5 separate regions of the Homo sapiens genome follow, and regions 1, 3, 4 and 5 are each linked to region 2. Evidence: fine-mapped expression QTL. A gene starts in region 2. Each other region holds a variant in brackets. All regions are shown on one strand. Distances are between the middles of the regions. Region 1 has its middle 33 kb from the start of LRRC8C-DT. Region 2 holds the start of LRRC8B (leucine rich repeat containing 8 VRAC subunit B). Region 3 holds the start of LOC124904216 (a long non-coding RNA gene). Region 4 overlaps LRRC8B (leucine rich repeat containing 8 VRAC subunit B). Region 5 overlaps LRRC8B (leucine rich repeat containing 8 VRAC subunit B).

Evidence for each region. PIP is the estimated chance that this variant, and not a neighbour inherited with it, causes the effect.
Region 1: its variant is the best candidate, but not a certain one, in a credible set for the expression of LRRC8B in whole blood (INTERVAL, PIP 0.90).
Region 3: its variant is the best candidate, but not a certain one, in a credible set for the expression of LRRC8B in whole blood (INTERVAL, PIP 0.76).
Region 4: its variant is the best candidate, but not a certain one, in a credible set for the expression of LRRC8B in testis (GTEx, PIP 0.71).
Region 5: its variant is the best candidate, but not a certain one, in a credible set for the expression of LRRC8B in subcutaneous fat (GTEx, PIP 0.57).

The regions. Positions count from the first base shown.
Region 1 is chr1:89,598,018-89,602,136 of GRCh38, forward strand. No RefSeq gene overlaps it. Among named protein-coding and RNA genes, the nearest start is that of LRRC8C-DT, 33 kb to the right of the region's middle. RefSeq lists enhancers at 186-702, 2,750-2,999. The variant G/GT (reference allele first, on the strand shown) is at 1,915.
Region 2 is chr1:89,523,139-89,527,257 of GRCh38, forward strand. LRRC8B (leucine rich repeat containing 8 VRAC subunit B) reads left to right here and starts at 1,691. Exons shown (of 6, transcript NM_001369817.2): 1 at 1,691-1,884. RefSeq lists a silencer at 1,555-2,014 and enhancers at 2,716-3,217, 3,218-3,719.
Region 3 is chr1:89,549,791-89,553,909 of GRCh38, forward strand. All of the region lies in intron 1 of LRRC8B (leucine rich repeat containing 8 VRAC subunit B), which reads left to right. LOC124904216 (a long non-coding RNA gene) reads right to left here and starts at 1,099. Exons shown (of 3, transcript XR_007066214.1): 1 at 1,070-1,099; 2 at 694-761. The variant G/A (reference allele first, on the strand shown) is at 1,546.
Region 4 is chr1:89,580,710-89,584,828 of GRCh38, forward strand. It overlaps LRRC8B (leucine rich repeat containing 8 VRAC subunit B), which reads left to right. Exons shown (of 6, transcript NM_001369817.2): 5 at 1,916-4,080. The coding sequence starts at 1,942. Among named protein-coding and RNA genes, the nearest start is that of LRRC8C-DT, 50 kb to the right of the region's middle. The variant C/T (reference allele first, on the strand shown) is at 1,980.
Region 5 is chr1:89,570,726-89,574,844 of GRCh38, forward strand. All of the region lies in intron 3 of LRRC8B (leucine rich repeat containing 8 VRAC subunit B), which reads left to right. Among named protein-coding and RNA genes, the nearest start is that of LRRC8B, 48 kb to the left of the region's middle. The variant T/C (reference allele first, on the strand shown) is at 2,499.

The DNA.
Region 1 (4,119 bases), 75 kb after region 2:
ATGGCCACAAAATAACAAGCACCTGAAAAGAGCTGCGTGGATCCTAGAATACATGGGTTGCGGGGGGTAGTAGATCTCTCATGAGTGGGCCCGTCTTTCCTTGGAATTCATCAGGGACAGATGTTCATAGAACGCCTCATCTCTCTCCTTTCTTCTTGGTGCCTGTTTCTCCATTTCCTGTTTAACACTGAATTGTGAACCAGGTAAGCAAAAGCTAAAGAACTGCAAGACAGGCAATTCTGAGATGGTTTAGTCAAAGGTGAAAAAATTGAATTACTGGATAAAATAAGTACATGATAGTTTGAACTTTTCGATAGAAAACAGCCTCTCTCGGTCTCTTACATGCACACACACACACAGTTTCAGGACCACATTAGAAGGCTGATAGCCAGAATTTTGCTGGAATATATATAGACTGAATCAGATTATGAAGGAAAGTAACTTAGTTGTTCCCTGGCCATATTCTCTGAAAATGCAGTAAGTCATTCAAGAAAGGCTTCCCCCATCTCTAAGTGGTTCAGGAATGGGAAGTCTATTGAAATGAAGTGAGTGCCTGCCTCCAGGCATTAGCAGCCTTTCAGGGACTGCTAGGTGCTTTGAGATGCTGAAGTTATATGCTAACAGTCTGCCCAGCAGTGACATGGCCCCCTAAACACAGCAATAACTGTGGCTTCATGTACTTCAGCATTCACTTCCACATTTCAAAATGGCTTTTTGAAAAAGTGGTAAAGGGCTCAACTGGAAGGGAGAGACTCCGGTGCTGTTGAGGGCAAGGTTCCATTCTCTGGAGCGGCAACTTTTGTTATGGTTTGTTTCCTTCTCTGTTCCCACCTGGTGTTTTGTCACCCTCATTCCTGAGGTCTAGGGAAAAGCAGTTTATCCAAAATGCACAAAGCCAGACCTCAAACTCAAGTCCCATATTTACATAAGATCCTACATCGACATGCTAAAGAAGGATCAGAAAAGGCCACTTTAATATGCGTAGTCTTTTTAAAATGCAAATCTCTTTCTTTATCCCATGTTATCTCATCTTCCCCTAGACTCGAGTTATGTCTTTCTGCCTCCTAAATAGCAGAGATTCTATAGAGCTGCCTGTTAGCTCTTGAGATTTTCAAATTATTTCCTTATGATAAATACCTTCCATTTTGGAGCCCTTTGTATTCCTATAGGGCTCAATCCACATCATTTTTTTTACTCTCTACCTCCCTCTGCTGCTGAGAGGAGAAAATGTCAAATAGAAGCATGCCACCAACACCCATCTGTAGGTTAATATAACTCCAGATTCTTTCTTTTGGAAAAAAAGATTCATGCCTATCTTACTTACCTGCAAAGCCATCACAGATTCTCTCTGCTTTCCTTTAACACCAAACCTTCTGGTCAGCCCTATTTCCTCACTGAGTATTCACTTTTCAACCCACTTCTGTCCAGCTCTCCACATGTCCCAGTTTCTGCCCCTCCTGGTAATTTCTCTTACACAGATTACCAATCGCTTATTTGCCAAGAGCAGTGACTTCTCAGTCCTAGCCTCTGTAGGTAGAGTAGAAATGCTTTTTTAGGTTTATCAACATTTGTAAATCTTGGCCAACCTTCTTCCTCATGGAGCGTGGGCCTCACAATTGCAGGTGTAAAAGATTTACAAAGTTATGAATCAGCACTGACCCTGCAATTACTGTTTTGGAGCCTAGCCTCTCCTTCCTGATATGGTCCTTAAACCACAGCATCCAGTTTCTTGCTCCTATACTCAGTTTCTCCTTGCCTTCCCTTGCCTTTATCAAATGCAGCCCCCACGGTAAGATCTTGAGGATTCATTGGCCCTCACTTAATATCAGTAACTGTACCTCAAATGAGATGCACATAGCCCCATGCAGTTCCTGGCACCAAGATCAGACCATACCGTGTGGGCACCCTGGGCAG[G/GT]TAAGTGTGTGGTACCCCTTTAAAAGAACATGCTTAGAATGTTTATTCAACATGTTTTTGGTAGAAATGGGAAAACTGGCGTTCTGTTGGAAAAAACAATCATGAACATTTTAACTATCTTTGTATTCCTTTTTCCAAAACTAAAACTCTATCTAGCAAGAATGAGAAAGAGTTTAAAGATAATTTAGCAGAAAGACAAGTGGGCCTAGGGGCTGTAGGGAATATGAGGTTTTACAGCTCACGGCATTTCTGTCGAATATCCCCAATCGACAATCAGTCTCCCGGGCCTTGTGAGCAGGCCTGTCAGCTGCTAAGTCTCCCTTCTTGTTCCCTTTCAAAGCATCCTACTCTCTTTGTCCCGCACCCTTATCCCTCCCAGATCTCACTCCCTCCAACCACTTTTGTGGGCTCTTGCTCTCTTTCGCTTGCTCTAGGATTGTGCTGCTCGGCATTGCCCCAACCACCATACTCCAAGCTTACGTATCCTCACCTATTACTAACTCCCATCTTCAAGAATATGAAATACCTATTATTCCAAGGATGATGCTTTAGCTTGTTCTCACCAAAATACATGTCTCCCAGTTATCAAGATTCTCTGTTTCTAGAAGGTAGTTTCTTGCCACAGTTTCAAATTTAAAATAAGAGACTTATTCCTTATGTTGAATGGGAAAAGGGCCAAGTTTCATTTGTTAGGCTGCTAACATAAGGAATTACATGTGGAAACCTGAGTTAACTGGCACCAAATTTCCAATTACTCCAATGACATGTAGTTACTCCTTGTAAATTAATACCCCAGGCACCTGTTTAAGTGCACTTACCCTTAGTTCAGCACAGCCTAGCATGTGAGTACCTTGGATATGGCCATGACTATTTTCTTCTCAACAGGAATGAACGAGTTACCATTGTGGTGTGAAAAACTGTTTCTCCCTTGAAATGCTTCTCAGTCATTAAGGAGTAGGTGGGAAGGTTTCCCTTCTGGAGTTTCTGAAACTGCACCACTAGTGGGGGACTAAACACCACCTGTGTGAAGGGAGTTTCCTTCTAGTCTTTCCCTGAGCTTGGGTTGGATTCACACCCTTGTCTGTAGTAATGCATAGAGAAACTTCTCAGATCCTCAAGGGGAGAAAAGAACAGTTCTCTTTTTCAAGTGGATCAAACCACACTTTTCATAATAGATTGAGCCTTTCTCTGGCAGTTGTTCTGTGAAAAGGGAAAGCCTAAAGAAGTAGCCACGTGAAGAATTGATGCAACACGCATTAAGTGGCCTGAGGAAAATCTGCTTGGCTTGTGATATCAGAGCAGCACAATGCATGTCGGGAACCTCACTGGTGGCTTCAAATTGAGAAAAGAGAATAATCTAACTATTTAGTTCCTGATCCTTGAGTTTGGAGAGCATCACTGTAGGAAGAAGTATTGAGGTGGTATATGACAATAACTTTATTTTGCACCTCCTGTGTGCCAGGCAGTCTGCTAGGTTTTCCATGTGTACTCTCTCAATCCAGCCAACAACCCTATTTGGTATGTTGTTCTGATTTTACAGGTGAGAAAGAAGACTTTCAAATTATTACCATCCCAAGGTCTCATGACTGCTGAGAACAGGAACCATATTCAACCTACAGGTCTGCATAGCCTGTTTCTACAGAGATTAGCTGAACATTAAACATCAACTTTATCCTCTCATAACCACCTTGGAGTTTTGAAAACTCTGGTTTTCAGAGCTCAGTGGTCTCGTCCAGTCTGCTTTGATCCTAGTGCTTCCTCCTGCTCTATAGCTATCCTAGTTTCTATCTCCTCAGCCATAGTCACTTCCTGTATGTTTTATTTTCCTCCTCATCCTCTAATGTAATTCTGGATTCAGAGATCTTCCCAATGAGAAGAAACCATGGAGAATTTGCTGAGAAGGAAGGGTTAAGTGGCTTGTTGGAGATCACAGCCCCAGTGATTTAGGAAGATGGTACCATGATCTGTGCATGCCCCCGTTGAGTGCTCTTTTCACCCTACTGTGCTGGCTCTGAAGAGCACAGATAATCCGCATTTCACCAAAGACTAGTGGAAGAGCCAGATCAGCACCCATGTCTCCCACCTAACTCTAGAATCTGTGTATTCTCTAATAAGCTGCATTCATTTTAGTTGTAATCTGCATCTTAATGATAATCCCTTCCCATGCACAGTGCATCACTGTACCAGAGAACTTTAGGCCATTTT
Region 2 (4,119 bases):
AATGTCCTTAACCTTGGCAAAATAAACCTCTAAAACGATTGAGACCTGCCTGTCATTTTTTTGGTGCTTAAAATCCATGATGGAATTTTTAATCACTATTTTAGACTTGGGTAAATCTGGCTGTGAAAGTAGTGACAGAGTCTTTTAGAATTTTCTTCTACCAAAAATAATTAATCAGAAAGTCCCTGAGAGAATTTCAGATACTCCTGTAAGGATCAAACCTAAATTTAAATTAGACTTGTAGATCTGTGCATACCCAGTGTCTCACACATATAAACTCAATAAAAATTTATCGAATGACCAAGTGAAGAAATGTTCTTTCAGCTTTTCCTTCAAGACTCAGAAAAAAGATATCTGCAGTTCCAGAATGGACTGAGTGAACAAGAAAAGAACAGATCAGTGACACAAAGACAGCCTTCTTTTTCCCTTTCAGGGTGACTCAAATTGTAGTCCTCATCTGAACAGTCTGAGACACAACTCTTGTCTCATATTAACTCGATAGGGCATTTGCTATACTCCCATTTACACAAACTGCTCAGATGCCCCAAATGCTGAGTCTGTTCGTCTTCATTTTATTCCTTTGGGAGATGCCGGTACAAACTTGTTTTTTCTTTCTTTTTTTAAATGGAGATGTGACCACCATAGCAACTAAAAGACATAAATCTTGCCTAATTGAATCAGTGTGCTCAAGATAATAGCCAGGGCAGAGACTGAGTTAAAACTGGGGTAAGGGTGAGAGTGGGGAAATGGATGAGGATGATAAAAATATTTATGTCCCTAGAATTTGTGGGTTTGGATTAATTCTGTTTCGTAAGGAATATTGTTGGCCTTCAAATGCAGTGCCACTTGGGAGAGAAGCAAGCGGGCAGTAGTTGAGGTGTCTCTGCAGTTGAATCGCAGTGAAAGGCAGGTTATGAGTATAGGGACCGCCCCTCGGCCATGTGGTCCCCTCCCTATCCTGAGGATAACGACATTTGAGAGAAGCCAATGGTATTGGAAGGCCAGAATCGAACTTAAGCCGCTTAGTTGGTACAACTGTAAACCCTCCCTCACAGAGGCTGGGCCCTGCAATCTTTCTAAGCAGGGTAAAGAAAAGTAAGGGGACTTCCTTTTCGAAGAGGAGGTTCCCGCGTGCTGCACCCGACCTTTCCCTCAGGGCCCAACACGCGTTATATAAATGCCAAGTTACTCAGGGACGCACACGTGAGAAGGCTGGGGCCCGACACACGCGGTGTAGTGCCGAAGTCACCGGTGTGGCGCGCCTGGGGGACACGCCGAAGCCCATTTCCCTCCCGCTTCTGGAAAGCAGTCCCCGCTCTTTCCAGCTGCTCCGCGGGGCGTATGGCTGTGCGCTACCTCCTGCGGACCCCAGGCTGGGCGAGGGGGCAGCGATGGCCACATGGCGCGCTCGGGGAGATGGCAGCTGCGCTTTGTTTCCAGCAGTGATAGGTGAGTCACTGGCTCCCGCAGCCCCAGAGCTGGGCAAACACTCAGGCCCAGGCAGCTGAAAAATTCACAGCAGGAGCAGCTACCGAAGCGACTGCAGCCTCTTCCTCCTCTTCCTCCTCCTCCTCCTCCTCCGCCACTGCTACCGCCACCACCGTGGTAGCCGCCTCCGCGCCCTGCCTCCGCCCCGTCCCCTCCTCCTCCACCCGCGAACTTAGTCAGCGGTTCGCGCCGCCGAGCGCCCATTGGCCAGCGGAACGCGTCGCGTCACAATGGAGCCGGTCGGAGGCGGCGAGCCGGACAGCGCCGGGGCTTCCCGCTGAGCCCGCAGCCTCCGGCAGCCGGGAAAGTGCGGGCGCGGGGCCGCAGCCTGCCCGCCCGGAGCGGCCCAGGAGCACGCCGCGGGGAGCGCGGGCGTCCGGGGCTGGAGTCGCGCAGGTAGGTCGGAGCGTGACACCCCGGTTCCAGGAGGGCGAGCCGCGCCGACCGAGGTGGTGGAGGAGGAGGACCGGATACGGGGACGCAGCAGGTGGGGCTGGCCGAACAGGTGCGGTTACCTGTTCACGCCTCACCTGCGAGCCAGGCTGCGGGCCGGTAGCGCGGCTGCAGAGACGAGTGGCCGCTTCGTTGTGCTCCCTGCCTTCGGGAGAGACGGAGTCCCACGCTGAGAGGACCTCTCCTGTGTGCTGGGGTCATTTGGAGCAAGAGGTGTGGGCGGTCGCGCCGAGACGGTCACCTCTCTTTCCCCCGGGAGTCTCGGCGTTGCACCTGAGCGTGAGTCCTCGGGGCGGGGCGGGAAAGGGGTTCCGCTTTCCCAGGCTGGCGTCTCGCTCCAGATGAGCGCAACTCCCCTGAGGGTGCCCCCATTTGGTCGCTCTGTTTTGCCCCCTGCGCTGGCGCTGTTGGGAACTATTTTATGCTCTTGGGAACTATTTTATGCTGTTGGATACGCGTTGGTTGCCTATAATTTGGTGGTGGTGTTGGGCGTTGATTTGTTTGAGAAAGAAAGGGCAAGCGTTACCAATTTAAGAAGAAGACTCAAGAGTTTCCCCTGAGCTTAGTTGAGCAGGTGCTGAGAGGTCAGAAGGGAGGAGGCTCAGTATTGGCTCATTAATCTGTGTGCTCAACTGACTTCCTAAAGTCCATAGATTGCCTTTAGTTAGATGACATTTGTGGAAAACTTTTTTTTTCTTTGTGGTCAAAAAGACACCCCTCTAAAAGAACAAAACCGACATGTGAACTTCCTTGAATAAATTCACTTCGCCTAAAGACTTCAAACAAACAAACAAAAAAACACTCCACTGGTAAAAGATAACAGTATGAACATTTTAAATTGTAGATATATAGCCAAATTAAAACAGGCAATTTGTTCAGCGTATATTAAGAAGACATTACGTAGCATGATTTTTATTAAAAGACAACCTATTTGCAAATGATATAGTAGTCTTTGCAGAACACCCCAGAAATCTTAAAACAGATTTATCTTTATCAGATGGTTCTGTCCCCTAAACCTAGGTGTAGGAGTGAGGATGGAAAAGAAGTCAAACTGCAGTGTAATTTTTTAAACAATTCCAGTACCCTCTATGTGTACAGGCTACACCTCCTGAGAACCCCAAATGCTCTTTGTTTTGTTTCTTTGTTTTGTTTTGAGACGGAGTCTCACTCTGTCGCCCAGGCTGGAGTGCAGTAGTGCGATCTCGGCTCACTGCAACCTCCACCTCCTGGGTTCAAGTGATTCTCCTGCCTCAGCCTCCCGAGTAGCGGGGACTACAGGGGCCCGCCACCACGCCCAGCTAATTTTTATATTTTTAGTGGTGGCGGGGTTTCACCATGTTGGCCAGGCTGGTCTGAAACTCCTGACCTCAAGTGACCCACCCACCTCGGCCTCCCAAAGTGCTGGGATTACAGGTGTGACCCCAAATGCTCTCTGAATTGTGGGTGCCGAGGTGACTTTCTTTTTCTCCTGGCTTTCCTTGTCAGCAGCTCTACTCAGAGAATATAAAGTGACAGCCAACCCCCAAGGTAATTGGGCCTGTGTAATTTTAGAATATAAGCCCTAACATGTCTGATATTTCTGTAAGCTAAAAAGAGGTCTCTTGAATGGGGGTGATGTTGTCATTGAGTGCACCCTTGGGTCATGGCACTTTCCTTATACTTAGTATCCCCAACAACATTTTTAAATCTGCATGTCGGAATTAAGTTTACCATTCTTTGAAATGTGTTCTCTTTTTCCTCAATTGGTAAGGTGTTCCAACATGTTCAGCCTATTATGAATCTTTTCACATTTTGAATGATTTCATTTGACTAGTTGAGATTTGCTTTTTTAAACCTCTTCTCTACCACTATCACCATTTCCCATTGCTATTTTAATTTTCAGAATCCTCAGAGTGAAAACACCAACAGTAAGTAAAATGAAAAGGGGCTTAATAAAACTTAAAGGATACTAAGCCTTCCAAGTTTTTTAGACTAATCCATGTATTTTCCTGTAGTGGCCTGAAATTTGTTATTTTTTGTTGTTTTCTGAAGTTTAAGGGGAAAAATATTTTACAATTTAGAACATCCTTGTTTTAGCCAATGTTTTTCTTATAAACAAGGGTTTTTGTTTTTGTATTTTAGTTTTCAAATTCTTCTAATAGTACCTGAGTATTTTATGTTTTCTGGACTTTTTACTAT
Region 3 (4,119 bases), 27 kb after region 2:
TTGAGTTATTTATTTTAAATAACTTTTAAAATTTTACCAAGTGCAGGTCTTTAAGTCCAACATTGGCCCAAGTCTTCAGCAAAAACAGCTTAACAAACTCATTTATATTTTTTCCTCTCCCTAGGGCTCCAGTTTGTGTTTTCAGCTGCCTACTAGACCTCACTACCTGGATGGCCCACAGGTACTGCAAACTCAGTGTTTTAAATAACACACTCATTAGCCCCCTTCATCATTGACCCTGTGGCCAAAGCTAGGATAAGTCACTTGTCCTTGAGTCCTGACTCTCCTTAACATCTAATCTGCTACCAAGTCCTTCTAAGGGATACCTAAGGAGCCCTAGAGTCTATGCCCATAAGCTAGTTAGCAGAGAACCTGCTCGAAAGCACTTAAAAGTAATAGTAGTACTTTTGCTTCTATCCCCTCTTCTCTTCACACTCAGGCACATCTTAGTTCAAGCCACCTTTCCTGTTTATCATCTGGACAATTGATCTATCCTGATCTCCTCCCTATGTGTATTTCTCCTTTTTAACGAGTTGTTCATGCTGCTACCAAAGTGGCAAATTCTAACTTTTTAAATTTAAGATTTGACGCTGACTGGATTAAGTCACTCCCTTTCACAAATACCTTTTTGGGTTCAATAGAATGGTACCTGTGTCTCATTAGGTCTGGACCTAAATGGCCTTTTCATCTCACCTTCTTCAGCTTTCCCGCTAGGTTCACTTGCGAGAACAGTACTCAGTCAAACCTTAGCTATGCCAAACCTTTAATAAAGCATAAAAGATTAATTATGTTAATTATTAGCCTTGCTTTGATATGAAAGGGCAAAATTCACCAGTTAGCTCCTTGGTCTTCCACTGAATATTGGAATATTAACTAGCACTTTATAACAGAGCCTTTCACCAGCCCAACTTTACTGCTCTTCCCTTTTCCCAGCTCTCTAGTCAGCCAGAACCCACAGTTCTGCCTAAATTCCTTCATTCCTGGTCAGTCTCACTGATACTACCATGGTCTTCACTCTCACTGCTTCAGCATTGAATGACTGCAGTAGGTTCCTGCCTGGTTTCCTTACCTTCATTTCCCCCGGCCCCCGATCCTGCCCCATTGTATCTCTCATGCCTTACCAGGTTAGTTTTCCTAAAATATTGCTTGCATTCTATTTTAGAATCTATAATTGTTCTCTTTTGTAAGTCAATTCAAGCCATACTCTCATATTCTGGAATCTCCAACCGTAAATGTCCTCACTGCCTCATTTATTTGTGAAGTCGTCCCCCTCTGGCCGTGAAGATCCTCTGCAGCCTCACTGCTCTTCCTCAGGCAACACCCCTCTGCTCTTTCCCTCCCCACTACCCCGCTGGAGATTTTTTTCCTGCTCCAGCCCCTGCATATCCCTAACGGCTCAGAGATACCTTATCTATGTTGCCTTCTCCATTCCCTGAGCTATACCTGTTCATCTTACAAGAGGAAGCTTTGGATGGTTGGAAGAGCACCATGTTTGGTGTCAGTTATAGGATCAAGCTCTTGCTCACCAGCCATGTGTCATCAGCA[G/A]CTAATTTTTTTTCTCTCTGAGCTTGTATCCTTATCCTAAAGTCAAGTGTATGATTTAAATGACTATGAAAAAAATGCTCCATAAACTTTTGAGCATTATATAGATGTTCAGAGTTGTTCCACTCCACTATTTAATCCTTCATTTTTTTCCTGTTCACTTTTTGTACAAATTTCTCATTTTCCTAACTTTATAAGTGTTTTAAGGATAGATAGAAAATGAAATATACTTTCTTATCTTATTCAGCCCATACCACAGCAAATGCTCAATGAATTCTCCCTGTCAAGAGAATTCAATGAATATAAATATAAAGGATCAGGCTCTGTGGTGAAAGTGCAGTATTTGATAAAGTGAGTGAGGGAGTAACAAGAAAAGAGGGTCCCCAAAGAAAACGGGACTGACTAGCGGTCTGGCCTGCCTCAATACTTTTGGTGCGTCCACAGACAAGCTCTGAATGAGACCCACTAGCCAGGCTCTTCAACCTCTTAACACCATGGCAATAGAATTGACTCAGTTTCTTAAGTGTGACACTGTTCTTAAAACATAGTAGGCTCTCAAGTGTTTCTAGAATTCACTAGCCACATGATTTGATTATTATATATATTTATATACATGCATGTACCGTGCTAATAGATTTGTCTGTCACTGCTTATTTATTCATAGTTTTTTTTCCTTTTACATTTCATTCTTATACAGAGCAGCAGTATGTCTGCTTTGTCTGCAGAGTAGCACTAATATTCAGATTTGCATTGTGTTTGTGCAGTGTCTAATAGGGGCTACCTGATCACTTGCTGAAGTCATAGGTAGTTCAGGAACTACCTTCTTATTTAGATTGCTAGGACATTTTCATAAGAATATTGTACTGTATATAATACTAAGCTTACTCAAATCCTGCTTAAAATTAAAAATAAGTATAAAGAATAATAATTAGTAAATGAGAATATATTCTGTTTTTGCATGGTGTCTTCTAGCCCCTTCTCCCACACCCAATCTCCTTGGAATAAGAGATATGGTAATGGAGCCCAGAAATTCATGATCCTACTTAGTATCCATCTTAGCAGAAAAATGTAAACCATAGTGAGTTTTGTTTGCTAACACTATCCTTAGACAATAAGAATAATCGTTAGGTACTTATAATAACTCTCACTATGTTTAGGTTACTGAGTCAGTTAAAAGCAGACTAATCAGTAAAATACATTTTCTGGTTTTAGAGAGCTTATAATTTACAATAGATTAAAGGGAATGACAGTAACCACAGAAAAATAATTAAGAGAAATGTGATTTACTTGTTACCTAAGAAGCAAAAGATACATTTTTCTCCAAAGTAAGTCATTAAAGATTGCAATCGTTTATACCAGAGTTGATTTACTAGCATGAAAATGATTGCTTAACCCTGCTCCCTGTGTTCACCAGGCGGGTTGGTGAAAGCTTGTGTTTCAGATGAGCCAGCCTGGCTACAGGAAAAGATATTTGCATAGAAGACTGGGGACACTGCCACACAAGAAAATGAAGAATTATGCTTTTGAAATTCCTTTTATTACTTCCTTGATTAAATTGTTGTTTCCAAGGGAATTGGATTTTCAGATGAAATTTTAATAATGCTTCAGATAATTCCAATTGTGTTCTTTCATTTTACTCTGCTTTCACAATATGATCATATTTGGTTTCACTTCCTGGTTAGTGCACACAAGCCTGTTGCTGGGAAATATTTGAATAAAATGTTTATGAGAGAAGACTATTGTTTCAAAGTAGAGGAAGGCATTTTTGTTTGATTTAGACTTAGTTCATGTAGTAATTTTTATAGAAATAAAATTTCTGACATGTAAATTGGTTAAAAACACTCTTTAAAAATAATTTAAAAGACTTATTTCGCACTGAAATTAAGTTACCTTGTGGTGAAATCATCTCTTCTACAGAAGTGTTTGATTAGGTACCAGTTGTGCAACAAATGAAATGTTTGTCCATAATTAGAGTAATTGTAACTTGATTTTAAACAGAGGTTTGATTGCATGGTGAGTGTCATAATGCCAAATGATTTTTCCATTGATTCAGGGCCCAGTGTATTCTTAAGTTGATGTTTGATCTCAGCATGTTTAACCTGGCCCAGAATATATCTGGCACCCTTTTGTGTGTGTGTTGTAAATGACTGTTCTTCTGTGTTACAGCTTCATACAAAATCTTTGCCTATTCTAAAAGTGGTATTTTTACCATTAAGTATTTAATTCCACCAGAGTACTCAGGTATTACCTAGTCTAAAAAAGTACAAATCAAATTTATTTCTCTTTGGAAAAAGTCAGTTAAGAATTTCAGGAAACGTCTGCTTCCTTAAAATCTAATTACTTTGTCCATTTGCATCAGTTTACTGGCTAAATCTGAAAGTTTAATTTTTTAAAGCGTAACTATTTTTCTACTCAGAATTTTAATTTTGAAGTCCATTTATGTTTTATTTCTCAAGGTACCTAGATATATACCCTAATATAAAATTAGGCTTCCTGCTGTCAATCTTGAACTCTCTCCAATGAATTCTTTCTGATGCTTTCAAATTAATTTTCTTGATATATAATAGTATGTCCCTA
Region 4 (4,119 bases), 58 kb after region 2:
AGAGCTATATAATCCACCTGTAGGTCCTAGGAGGAAGGTGAATCCATATAATATTATGTGATACCCAGAGAGGACACAAGCAGAAAGTAGTGCTCCAGTCCAGCAGTTAAGCTCAGAAATTGTAAAATGCCTTAACAGGTACAAGAGCATGAAGCTGTAGGGTTCAGGGTCAGATGGTCAGGAATATGCTGAGGATGAGACTTATTAACAGGGAGCAGGGACTCTGTAATGGGACTCTAAGGTTCAAGGCAGGATACCAGACCCCAGAAAGAGGGCAAATGAGAGTAAAAAAGTCTTCCTGGCCAGGCACAGTGGCTCAGGCCTATAATCTCAGCTCTTTGAGAGGCCAAGGTGGGCAGATCATGAGGTCAGGAGTTCGAGACCAGCCTGGCCAACATGGTGAAACCCCATCTCCTGTCTCTACTAAAAAGACACAAAAATTAGCTGGGCGTGATGCCATGTGCCTGTAGTCCCAGCTGCTCGGGAGGCTGAGGCGGGAGGATTGTTTGGACCCAGGAGGTGGAGGTTTCAGTGAGCTGAGATCACGCCACTAGACTCCGTCTCAAAAAAAAAAAAAAAAAAAAAAAAGGCTTCCTTGGGGATGCTACTAATACTAGAGTGTCTAGAGAGTAACTCTGGCCCAGAATAAATGATAAGACTTCAGACTCAAGAAAATCCAAGAGAAACCCTTGAAAATAGATTAGAGCTGGACTACCAGCAAGGGGGCACCATGCTACCATTATTATTTTTCTTCTTTTTCTTATCAGATATTTTCTAAGACCCACATATTTCCTTTTACTTTACTCTGTGCCATCTTATAGATCATCTGGATTTTACTGATTAGCAATTTTTGAAACAATTGATGTATGTAAGACTCAACATAGAAATTCTCAGGAATGTTGTCTGAATACTTTTCAGTATGAAAATACAAGATAATCTTGTTTTCCTGAAGGCAAAAGTAATTTAATAATGGAATATGCCTCCATCGTTTATCCTTTTAGTACTTTGCCATCACAACATTAAACATGAGAGGGAGTCCCCATGATAGAATATTCTAGCAGAGCTTTTCTTTCTTATTCTTTTTTAAGCCATAACTTTTAAATACTTCCCAACTTTTAAATACTCTAAGTTTTTTCATACTCATGTACTTAAATTACAAAGCGAAAGCTTGTGTGGAAAGGAGATAATGCATTCAGTGACAGGTTGTTCTGGGCATAGAATTGTAGACCCCACTAAGCCTAAGGGGTAATTTCACAAAGCAGAGCTTGCTTAAAAGAGGCTCCTTGTGGTGACTAAAACAACTCTTGGGCTGTAAGTGATGCTTCAGACATGGGACAAGGTGTGGAAAGGAGCTTACTCAGACATTTTGGAAGGTAAAATGTGACCACTGGAAATTAGGTGGCTGGCTGTGGTGACTCATAGCTGTAATTCCAGCACTTTCAGAGGCCAAGCAGGGAGGATCACTTGAGGCCAAGAGTCTGAGGCCTGTGAGACCCTGTCTCAAAAAAAAAAGGAAGAAAAAAAGAAAGAAAGAAAGAAAAAAATATTAGTAGCATAGGAACAAGTTTTTCAAATGTCAGTTGAAGAAAAATTGGCTCCTGGTTTTTAGTAGCCTAGCCTGGAGTTGAGATACAAGAGGTAACGAGATAATTACCTCAAGGGCTACCCCTAAATTTCTTTCTAGTCAGTATCACTAAATGGTCCCCCATCTAAGAGACTATGGTTCAGAGTTGGATGGCCTATAGTTTCAAATGAAACCAGAAGACTTATGTGCCCCTTAATCAGCTCTTCCTTTTAGGTTTTACCCCAGAGCTAAATCCTACTTGGGAAGGAGGGCATGTGTGTATGAATATTAGAGTAAAATGCTTATTTGAGTACTTGCTTCAGTAGTGTTTCTTTTATTTCCCTCTTCCAGTTTCTGTCCTCCTACAAGGGAAAGTCATGATTACACTAACTGAGCTAAAATGCTTAGCAGATGC[C/T]CAGTCATCTTATCACATCTTAAAACCATGGTGGGACGTCTTCTGGTATTACATCACACTGATCATGCTGCTGGTGGCCGTGCTGGCCGGAGCTCTCCAGCTGACGCAGAGCAGGGTTCTGTGCTGTCTTCCATGCAAAGTGGAATTTGACAATCACTGTGCCGTGCCTTGGGACATCCTGAAAGCCAGCATGAACACATCCTCTAATCCTGGGACACCGCTTCCGCTCCCCCTCCGAATTCAGAATGACCTCCACCGACAGCAGTACTCCTATATTGATGCCGTCTGTTACGAGAAACAGCTCCATTGGTTTGCAAAGTTTTTCCCCTATCTGGTGCTCTTGCACACGCTCATCTTTGCAGCCTGCAGCAACTTTTGGCTTCACTACCCCAGTACCAGTTCCAGGCTCGAGCATTTTGTGGCCATCCTTCACAAGTGCTTCGATTCTCCATGGACCACCCGCGCCCTTTCAGAAACAGTGGCTGAGCAGTCAGTGAGGCCTCTGAAACTCTCCAAGTCCAAGATTTTGCTTTCGTCCTCAGGGTGTTCAGCTGACATAGATTCCGGCAAACAGTCATTGCCCTACCCACAGCCAGGTTTGGAGTCAGCTGGCATAGAAAGCCCAACTTCCAGTGTCCTGGACAAGAAGGAGGGTGAACAGGCCAAAGCCATCTTTGAAAAAGTGAAAAGATTCCGCATGCATGTGGAGCAGAAGGACATCATTTATAGAGTATATCTGAAACAGATAATAGTCAAAGTCATTTTGTTTGTGCTCATCATAACTTATGTTCCATATTTTTTAACCCACATCACTCTTGAAATCGACTGTTCAGTTGATGTGCAGGCTTTTACAGGATATAAGCGCTACCAGTGTGTCTATTCCTTGGCAGAAATCTTTAAGGTCCTGGCTTCATTTTATGTCATTTTGGTTATACTTTATGGTCTGACCTCTTCCTACAGCCTGTGGTGGATGCTGAGGAGTTCCCTGAAGCAATATTCCTTTGAGGCGTTAAGAGAAAAAAGCAACTACAGTGACATCCCTGATGTCAAGAATGACTTTGCCTTCATCCTTCATCTGGCTGATCAGTATGATCCTCTTTATTCCAAACGCTTCTCCATATTCCTATCAGAGGTCAGTGAGAACAAACTGAAACAGATCAACCTCAATAATGAATGGACAGTTGAGAAACTGAAAAGTAAGCTTGTGAAAAATGCCCAGGACAAGATAGAACTGCATCTTTTTATGCTCAACGGTCTTCCAGACAATGTCTTTGAGTTAACTGAAATGGAAGTGCTAAGCCTGGAGCTTATCCCAGAGGTGAAGCTGCCCTCTGCAGTCTCACAGCTGGTCAACCTCAAGGAGCTTCGTGTGTACCATTCATCTCTGGTCGTAGACCATCCTGCACTGGCCTTTCTAGAGGAGAATTTAAAAATCCTCCGCCTGAAATTTACTGAAATGGGAAAAATCCCACGCTGGGTATTTCACCTCAAGAATCTCAAGGAACTTTATCTTTCGGGCTGTGTTCTCCCTGAACAGTTGAGTACTATGCAGTTGGAGGGCTTTCAGGACTTAAAAAATCTAAGGACCCTGTACTTGAAGAGCAGCCTCTCCCGGATCCCACAAGTTGTTACAGACCTCCTGCCTTCATTGCAGAAACTGTCCCTTGATAATGAGGGAAGCAAACTGGTTGTGTTGAACAACTTGAAAAAGATGGTCAATCTGAAAAGCCTAGAACTGATCAGCTGTGACCTGGAACGCATCCCACATTCCATTTTCAGCCTGAATAATTTGCATGAGTTAGACCTAAGGGAAAATAACCTTAAAACTGTGGAAGAGATCATTAGCTTTCAGCATCTTCAGAATCTTTCCTGCTTAAAGTTGTGGCACAATAACATTGCTTATATTCCTGCACAGATTGGGGCATTATCTAACCTAGAGCAGCTCTCTTTGGACCATAATAATATTGAGAATCTGCCCTTGCAGCTTTTCCTATGCACTAAACTACATTATTTGGATCTAAGCTATAACCACTTGACCTTCATTCCAGAAGAAATCCAGTATCTGAGTAATTTGCAGTACTTTGCTGTGACCAACAACAATGTAAGTAAATCCATTCTTTCTTTTATTCAGTATCTGCCG
Region 5 (4,119 bases), 48 kb after region 2:
ATTTGTCAATTTTTGCTTTTGTTCCAATTGCTTTTGGCATCTTCATTATGAAATCTTTGCCCATGCTTATTGTCCTGAATGGTATTGCCTAGGTTGTCTTCCAGGGTTTTTATAATTTGGGGTTTTTATAATTTGGCCTTTAATCCATTTTGAGTTCGTTTTTGTATATGGTGTGAGGAAGGGGTCCAGTTTTAATCTTCTGTATATGGCTAGCCAGTTATCCGAGCACCATTTATCAAATAGGGAATCCTTTTCCCATTGCTTGTTTCTGTGTTGTTGAAGATCAGATAGTTGTAGGTATGCAGTCTTATTTCTGGGTTCTCTATTCTGTGCCATTGGTCTATGTGTCCGCTTTGTACCAGTACCATGCTATTTTTGGTTATTGTAGCCCTGTAGTATAGTTTGAAGTTTAGCAATGTGATGCCTCCAGCTTTGTTCCTTTTGCTTAGCATTGCCTTGGCTGTGCAGGTTCTTTTTTTGGTTCCATGTGAGTTTTAAAATAGTTTTTTCTAGTTCTGTGAAGAATTTCAATGGTAGTTTAATAGGAATAGCATTGAATCTATACATATATTGCTTTGAGCAATATGGACATTTTTAATGATACAGATTCTTCTTATCCATGACCATGGAATGTTTTTCCATTTCTTTTGTGTCATCTCCAATTTCTTTGAGCAATGGTTTGTAGTTCTCCCTAGTTATCTGTATTCCTAGGTATTTTATTCTTTTTGTGCCAGTTGTAAATGGGAGTTTGTCCCTGATTTGGCTCTCAACGTGACTGTTGTTGGTGTATAGGAATGCTAGTGATTTTCATACATTGATTTCGTATCTGGAGACTTTGCTGAAGTTACCAGCTTAAGAAGCTTTTGGGCTGAGACTGTGGGGTTTTCTAGATATAAAACCACGACATCACAAACAGGGATACTTTGATTTCCTCTTTTCCTATTTGGGTGCACTTTCTTTCTCTTGCCTGATTGCCCGGCAAAGACTTCAATACTATGTTGAACAGGAGTGGTGAGAGAGGGGATTATTGTTGTGTGCTGGTTTTCTTTCTTTCTTTTTTTTTTCTTTTTTGCTAAGGAATGTTTTACTTCCAATTATGTGATCAATTTTAGAGTTTGTACCATGTGGCAATGGCATTGAGAAGAATGTATATTCTGTTGTTTTGGTTGGATAGTTCTGTAGATATCTATCAGGTCCATTTGATTCAGTGCTGAGTTTAGGTCCTGAATATCTTTGTCAATTTTCTGTCTCAATGATCTGTCTAATATTGTCAGTGGGGTGTTAAAGTCTCCTACTATTTTTGATTGGGAGTCTAAGTCTCTTTAAGGTCTCTAAGAACTTGCTTTATGAATCTGGGTGTTCCTATGCTTATGAAGCTTCATTTGGCCAGATATGAAATTCTGGGTTAAAATTTCTTTTCTTTAAGAATGTTGAATATTGACCCCTAATGTCTTCTGGCTGGTAGGGTTTCAGCTGAGAGGTTCGCTATTAGTCTGAAGGGCTTTTCATTGTAGGCGACCTGACCTTTCTGTCTAGCTGCCTATTTAACATTTTGTCTTTCATTTCAACCTTAGATAATCTGTTGATTATGTGTCTTGGGGATGATCTCCTTGTGAAGTATCTTACTGAGGTTCTCTGCACTTCCTGAATTTGAATGTTGGCCTCTCTAGCTAGATTGGGGAAGTTTTCATGGATGATACCCTGAAATATGTTTTCCAGGTTGGTTCCATTCTCCCCATCTCTTTCAGGTAAACCAATCAGCTATAGATTCAGTCTTTTTATATAATCCCATATTTCTTGGAGGCTTTGTTCATTCAGAAAGGCCATCTTCCAACTTTGAGATTCTTTCGTCCACTTGGTCTCTGCTGTCTGCCTGTCATTTGAAAGGTGAGAGTGTGATTCAGAAGGGACTACATAGGGAGTGGGTTTTGTTCTACGTATTATGGCTTGCTTACTGTGGTGTTGGGGGGTGGTCAGGAAAATAGTCTTATAAACAGCAAAAGGTGATGGAGAAGGATTTGAGGTTGCCTTCTATTTACACCTTCTCTGTAAGAATTATCCAGCAACTAGTGGCTTATGCTTGTGTTAATATTACAAGAATATGGCTGCAACTTCTTTTATTTTAAATAGATTTTAGAAAATATGGTAGCTTACTAAAAACTTCAAAGAATTGAGAGATCTTTTCCTAAAGAGAAAAATATTATCTACATTAAATATATGATGTATTCTATAACTGCCAGAAATAAGTAAAAATGAAGCAATATTCCTTAAAGTTTAGGATAACTCAAATGTCGGCCAGGCACGGTGGTTCACGCCTGTAATCCCAGCACTTTGGGAGGCTGAGGTGGGCGGATCACGAGGTCAGGAGATCGAGACCATCCTAGCTAACATGGTGAAAACCCATCTCTACTAAAAATACAAAAAATTAGCCGGGCGTGGTGGCAGGCACCTGTAGTCCCAGCTACTCAGGAGGCTGAGGCAGGAGAAGGGTGTGAACC[T/C]GGGAGGCGGAGCTTGCAGTGAACCAAGATCGCGCCACTGCACTCCAGCCTGAGCACAGAGCAAGACTCCGTCTCAAAAAAAGAAAAAAAAAAAAAGAACAACTCAGATGTCATTAGGATTTCTAGAATTTTTCCATGGTTTTAATTCACTCAGTAACTTTTTTATTTAATTTATTACTTACTATTTATAATTATTTATTTTATTTCATTTATTCAATAACTTTCTCCAAGGGCTTCTGATGACTAGGGTGATTTTCCTAATGTTTAGAGTATTCATCAAATTGTTTCCCAGACCCATTATCTTACTACAGTTTTGGGTCAGAAGCTCTGGAATGGCAGTTGTATGTCTCTCTTCTCCTTTGGTTTCTGTGTATTATTTTATGATGATGTCAGCTTCTTTCCTTGAATTCTGATTTTTGTGTTCCAGAAATACTGTGCTTCTCCTTTACCTCACTGATCCTGCTTCTCTATCCTTTTTCAATCTTCCTTATCTAATAAACCTTCCTTATCTATTTTATAGAGGGGACAGCAATTCTGTCCTTCACTCACTAAATTCTTTCTCTCAGATAATTCATTTCTGTGGCACTGACCACCACTTAAGTGTTCATGACTTCCTACGGTGGGCTAAACATGGCTGCTAAGGCCTAGCAACTCTGCCTATCAAGAGGTGGAGTTGATATCCCCACCCTTGGAATCTGGCTGGCTGTGGTAGGTTTTTTGATCAATAGAATGTGGCAGAAATGGTGTGGAGTAATTTCCAAGGCTGGGCCTTAAGAGACTTGTAGCATCTGCTTTTGTGTGCTTGAAACATTCCTCTTAGATCTTAGTCTCTTGCTATGAGGAAGCCCAATTAGCCATATAGAGGACTGGCAAGGCCCCTGGTCGACAGCCGAAGCTGGGCTCCCAGCCAGCAATCAGTAGAAGCACCAGTGTTGTGACTTGAGGCACTTTGGGCCTTCTGAGTATTCTAGCATTCCAGCCCTCACCATGTGAACTGCCAGATCATCCCATAGAATCATGAGAAATTATGAATTGTTACTTTAGCCACTAAGTTTTGATGTGACTTGTTACACAGAATAAAGAATCAAAACAAAAATTGGTACCTAGAAGTGAGATGCTGGCATAACAAAAATCTGGCATTTTGGCTTTGAGACCAGGTGTCAGTGAAGGCCTGAAGGGCAGTTAGAATACTATTGCTATTGGAGGATGTCAAATGGTACCCTTGTTTTATATTGAGAAAAAAGTCAGCAAGACCATGACCTACAGTAACATGGAACATAGAAAATGAACCTAATGAACTTGTGGATCTAGCTCAGGAGATTTTCCAGCAAAATATCAGAAGCTCTGAGTGACCCCTTTAACTCCTTTTTTAACTCCCCTTTTTTTTTGATACTGTGATCAAAGTATTTCAAGAAAGAGACTAATTAAAGAAGAAACTATTTTAATTTTAAGCAGACTTTAGAGGAAGTATTTCCAATCCTGAATTTTCTCAGATTGTAAATCCGACTGTTTCTCATCCCCAGCTCCTCTACCCAGCAAAAGACCAGTTCCTCTACCCAGCAAAAGATACTCAAAGAAAGAAGTGGCCTCAGGTCCAAAGATCAGATCCAGAACATTACTG